Linked DNA regions of Homo sapiens: region 2 is linked to region 1. The links come from fine-mapping of genetic effects on gene expression. A gene starts in region 1. The other region holds a variant in brackets. All regions are shown on one strand. Distances are between the middles of the regions.

Region 1 (3,019 bases):
TGCCTGATCCAATAACCATAATCTGGAATAAAAGGTATTGATTAGTATAAGTTAATTGGGGCTCATTTCTGGACCTGCAATGAAGTCAGTTTCCTTCTCAAATCCTCAAAACTCTAAGTGCTTTCAGAAGTGGGAATAAAGCTGGGCGCAGTGGCTCACGCCTGTAATCCAAGCACTTTGGGAGACCAAGGCGGGCGGATCACCTGAGGCCAGCCTGAGCAATGTGATGAAACCCCGTCTCTACTAAAAATACAAAAATTAGCCGGGCGTGGTCACATGCACCTATAATCCTAGGTACTCGGGAGGCTGAGACAGGAGAATCAGTTGCACCCTGGAGGAGGAGGTTGTGGTGAGCTGAGATTGTGCCATTGCACTCCAGCCTGGGCAACACAGCGAATCTTCATCTCAAAAAAAAAAAAAAAAGTGAGATTTAAATAGGTCTTCATCAACCTAGGGATTTGGGGTTGTCAGCAACAGAAACTACTACAGAAACCGACTGCATAGACTGGAGAGACAGGTGGTCCCCTAAAGGAAAAATAGAGTGTTAGAAGAAAGGAGAAGAGTGCTGGACAGTACATACTTAATAAATATCCACTGGTTATTTCATAGAAGGCCCAAAAATGTATTTATTTAACCCAGTAATGAAATCTGAGGGTTAGGAAGAGCAGAAAAGAAGGAAGTGTGGCAGGAAGGAGGAAAAATGAAAGTGGGCCCAAACAACACGGCAGCTAACAGAGATCTTGCAACGAAAGGTCTATTGGTGGAAAAACTCCTCCCAGGAATGTCAGAACTTTTAAGAACGACATAGTAATGACACAAGAATAAACACACAGGCAAATGAGCAAACAACGGAATACAAAGTCTAGAAATAGACACAAGTAAATATGCTAACATTATATATCAAGGGCAGCATTTAAATTCTGTTGGGGCAGTTTGTTTAACAAATGGTGTTGACATAACTGGCGCTCCATCGGGCAGAGAAGTTAGACCCCAGCTCATACATGCATAAGGATAAACTCCAGTTACATTAAAGATTTAATTTTTTTTATAAAAAGAAGAAGGCCGGGCACGGTGGCTCACGCCTGTAATCCCAGCATTTTGGGAAGCCGAGGCGGGTGGATCACCTGAGGACAGGAGTTCGAGACCAGATTGGCCAACACAGCGAAAACCCGTCTCTAATAAAAATACAAAAATTAGCCAGGCGTGGTGGCGGGCGCTTGTAATCCCAGCTACTCGGGTGGCTGAGGCACGAGAATCGCTTGAACCCGGGAGGCAGAGGTTGCAGCAAGCCCAGATAGCACCATTATACTCCAGCCTGAGCGACAGAGAGAGACCTGTCTCAAAAAAGGAAAAAAAAAAAGAAAAGAAAAAGCAAGATAATTCACTGGGGGAATTTGGGGAAACTTTCCTAAACTGGAAGCCAAGCGTGAGCCCTTCTCATTCCGCCTCTTCCATTGGGTTCCCATGACTTACGTCACAGGACATCGAGCCAATGGGAACTAGGCATGGGCGACGAGCTTGCCCAATGGGGCCGGGGCGGGAGATTTGAAAAGTCCTTGGCCAGGGCGCGGCGTGGCAGATTCAGTTGTTTGCGGGCGGCCGGGAGAGTAGCAGTGCCTTGGACCCCAGGTGAGCTGGCCTCCTGTCGCAGGCCTTGCGCCGGGAGTGGGCAGATGATCAGGTAGATCAGAGGGTCCGTTGGGCTGGCCTGCGCGCACGCCGCAGGGCTGGAAGGAGGTAGGGACGATAGCAGGGCGGGGGCGGTGAGACCAGCGCCCAGATTGGGGCTAGTGTGCTGACCTGCTCCCTTTTACCAGCTCGGGCTAGCGCTTCCGGCTCGATCGGTCCAACCCCTCCCTCTCTCTCTCTTTTTCTCTGCTTCTCACGGCTGTTTCCCTTCTCCGCCCAGCTCTCCTCCCCCTTTCTCTCTAAGGATGGCCCAGAAGGAGAACTCCTACCCCTGGCCCTACGGCCGACAGACGGTAAGGCCCTTCCCTCCGTCCCTGCGCCCCCATGACCCCGCATGGCGAGTTCCTGCTGGGAAACTTGAGATCCTGCAATGAGCAATCCTTTAAGCACTTTCTTCCCCGTTATGCTCCAAAGTACGGGTCCCAAGTTTGACGACAGAACCCGCTCTGGTCATTTGTAGCCACATCCTGTCAGGTGCTGCCAACGTGAATCTGACCAGCCAGTGACTCCCAGCTGGTGAGGACCTCTGCAGGGCTCGTCACATACAAATGATATCTGGGACTGAGCAGGCAGGGCCTGGCCTTCAGGCCATGATTCCCAATCCATATCCTGAAAAAAAAAAAACTAGACAGCAAATAGAAATAGACTCTAAAAGGATATAAAGTTACAGTTTAAAAGGCCCAGGGCAAGTCTAAATTACAATTTGGAATTAATGACTAAATTGAGGTAAGAATCTAAATGGATCTAAATTGACTTATTTCCCAATGGTCCAGACAGATTTCATTGAAGGGCCTCCTCTCTGATTTGAAATGCCACCTTTATTATATATATAAATTCCCACATATATGTGGGTCTATTTCTGGACTGTATTTTATTCAACTTGCTTATTTGTAGATTGGTACCAATATCACTATTTGGGGCCTAGGGGCTTTCTTCTCTTGGCTGCAGAAGAAGGAAGGGGCCCTGCACAGGCTTTGCTCCCTGTTTTTGGAGCTCTTGCTTCCTGGAGAGTCTGTCTGTTCCCTTGTACATCAGCTCCCTCCCTCATGGAGCACTGAGTGAGGCTGTCAGGAATGGAGTCTGAATGAGAAACCATTGTCACTTTTACCTTAGTCACTCCTAAAAGAAAATGTACCTATTATTTTGAGAGTTGAAAGTGAGGCCAGGTAGGTGGCTCACGCCTGTAATCCCAGCACTGGGAGGCTGAGGCAGGTGGATCACCTGAGGTCAGGAGTTCGAGACCAGCCTGGCCAACATGGTAAAACCCCGTCTCTACTAAAAATACAAAAATTAGCCAGGCATGTGCCTGTAATCCCACCTACTCAGGAGG
Region 2 (2,500 bases), 26 kb before region 1:
CTGATTAACCCTTGCTCTTGGTCTTTCTTAGCTCATAGACCTGGACCTTTCTTGGTTGGGCCATCTTTTTCTGTTCCCCCGTTGGAGTTACCTCCCTCCTGCCAGGTGGAATTCCTCAGGGGAAGGGCACTTGGAGCTGTGGGATGCCCCTGTGCCAGTGTTTCCTTTGACCATCAGTCCTGGCCCCGTCACGCCTATCCCTGTCCTCTACCCAGAGAGTGCTTCCTGCCTGCTCAGGCTCAGGTAATTTCCCCCTCTAGGCATGGCAGGGGCGCTGTAAAACTGAAGGATGATGCTGGGTCAGTGGAGGGAGAGAAAGAAAAGGGCATTGATAGTAATATAGACTGAATGTTCCAAATCAAGGGAATGGTGGGCTTTGAATATTAAGAAGGTAAAGAGAAGGGTTGTTCAAGGGATCTGTGCCTTACCTAAGGGAAAGAGAATTTTGAAGGTTTTTAGCATAGCTTGCTTTGGGCTATGGACATTTTGTATCATTACCAGGTTATTCTTTACTGTGGAAGGGACAGCATTTATAGGGAAAAAGAAGAGAAATAAAGATGACTGCTGCTGCTTTTTTTTTTTTTTTTTTTTTTTTTTTTTTTTTTTTTGAGACGTAGTTTCACTCCTGCTGCCCAGGCTGGAGTCCAATGGCGGGATCTCAGCTTACTGCAACCTCTGCCTTTCAGGTTCAAGTGATTCTCCTCCCTCAGCCTCCTGAGTAGCTGGGATTACAGGGCTTTTTCTTCCTTCTTAGAAACAAGCTCAGAGGTGTGCAGCGAAACCTGGCTGGGAGTCTAGTTCGATTGAGTGCTCTGGTGAAAAGTAAACAGAAAGCTTACTTCATCCTGTCTCTTGGTAGATCACACCCAGCTGTCACCCACGTGTCCATCATCGTGCAGGTGAGGACTGGGGTCATTTCAGCCATGGAAGTGGGGGAGGGTGGTAGAACTTTCAGTAGGAAAGATAGCATCATAGGAGGAGCCATGTAGGAAAGGAGGACAGCTGGGGAGAGCTGTTTTCTGGAATAGCGCTGTTGGGAGAAGATTCCGGGAAATGTTTGTGCATAGAGTTAGGGAGTAGACTTTCCCGCTGTGCAACTCACTTGAGCACACAGCTTTTAGATTGTATGTGACCTTTTAAAAAACTGCCACGCTCACTTGTGGAGATGACCAAAGAAATCATTCATCTTAACACCATTGAGACATTGAATACAGGCATTAAAAAAAAAAAAAAAACTTGGTACTTACTGTTGACTCTTTTTGCATCAACTGGTACAATTTTATTTTTATAATTTCAACTTTTAGACTCATGAGGTACATGTGCAAGTTTATTAACTGGGTATATTTTGTGATTCTGAGGTTTGGGGTATGATTGATCTCTTTACCCAGGTACTGAGCATAGTACCCAAGGTAGAAATTGTAAATCATTGATCTTTATTCTAACCATTGTTTTATGACATATAAGTTTCTGAATAATGTTTCTTTTCCTTTTTAT[A/G]GAAATTTTAAAAATATATGTATTTTGTAGAAATAGGGCCTTACTGTGTTAGAGAAGAACAGTTTGTCATACTTCCCTTGACATCAGTCACAATACTGGATACATATATACTCAATACACTTTGATTACATGAATGAATGTTGTTTGTGTGTTATGGGGCGGGATAGGGCACAGTTTTCTCAGTGGAATATTTATGTATTTTGAAGGAAGTTTTAGGGATGGTTTGTATGTTGGGGAAGTGGTTTGGAAATATTTGGCATCTCCTGTGAGAGAGGAGAGACGCTAAGATTTAGTTGGCAGACATAGGGAAGATGGAGAGGTGAGTTGAGACTCACAGAGGGCAGGTCTCTGAGTTCAAATCGTGAGGGAAAAGGACTCTGGCAGAGTGGCAGTGTTGGGGTCTCTTGTGTCACATTGCCTGTCTCTGCACAAGCCAGGTCCCTGCCCAGCTGGTGTGGCACAGAGCCCTTCGGCCTGGTACAGCCTATGTGCTGACAGAACTGCGAGTGTCCAAGATCCGTGGTCAGCGCCAGCATGTTTGGATGACCAGTCAGTCCTCCCGTCTGTTGCTGCTGAAACCAGAATGTGTGCAGGAGCTGGAACTGGAGCTGGAAGGACCCCTCTTAGAGGCTGACCCCAAGCCACTCCCCATGCCCAGCAACTCGGAGGACAAGAAGGATCCAGAAAGTCTTGTCCGGTATTCTAGACTCCTATCCTATTCGGTGAGCACAGGGAGAGATCCTAGAGCTTGAGGGGCCAGAAATGTGGGTTTTCAAAGAGGAAGAAAATAGTGGTCAACTGGACCTCGGCCTGTTTGCAGGGAGCAGTCACTGGCGTGTTGAATGAGCCCGCTGGCCTCTATGAGCTGGATGGGCAGCTGGGGCTCTGCCTTGCCTACCAGCAGTTCCGTGGCCTTAGGCGGGTGATGCGACCTGGAGTGTGTCTGCAGGTATGTGAGATCAGGGCTGATAACAAAAAGAGACCTCTGCAGCTTCTCTTACCTTCA

What was found. PIP is the estimated chance that this variant, and not a neighbour inherited with it, causes the effect. A credible set is the group of variants that fine-mapping cannot tell apart.
Region 2: its variant is the best candidate, but not a certain one, in a credible set for the expression of AURKB in whole blood (INTERVAL, PIP 0.83).

The regions. Positions count from the first base shown.
Region 1 is chr17:8,209,140-8,212,158 of GRCh38, reverse strand. AURKB (aurora kinase B) reads left to right here and starts at 1,584. Exons shown (of 9, transcript NM_004217.4): 1 at 1,584-1,629; 2 at 1,910-1,982. The coding sequence starts at 1,935. RefSeq lists enhancers at 2,082-2,131, 1,693-2,352.
Region 2 is chr17:8,235,774-8,238,273 of GRCh38, reverse strand. CTC1 (CST telomere replication complex component 1) reads left to right here. Exons shown (of 23, transcript NM_025099.6): 4 at 32-243; 5 at 755-899; 6 at 1,932-2,216; 7 at 2,315-2,443. Among named protein-coding and RNA genes, the nearest start is that of TRI-AAT4-1, 10 kb to the right of the region's middle. The variant A/G (reference allele first, on the strand shown) is at 1,495.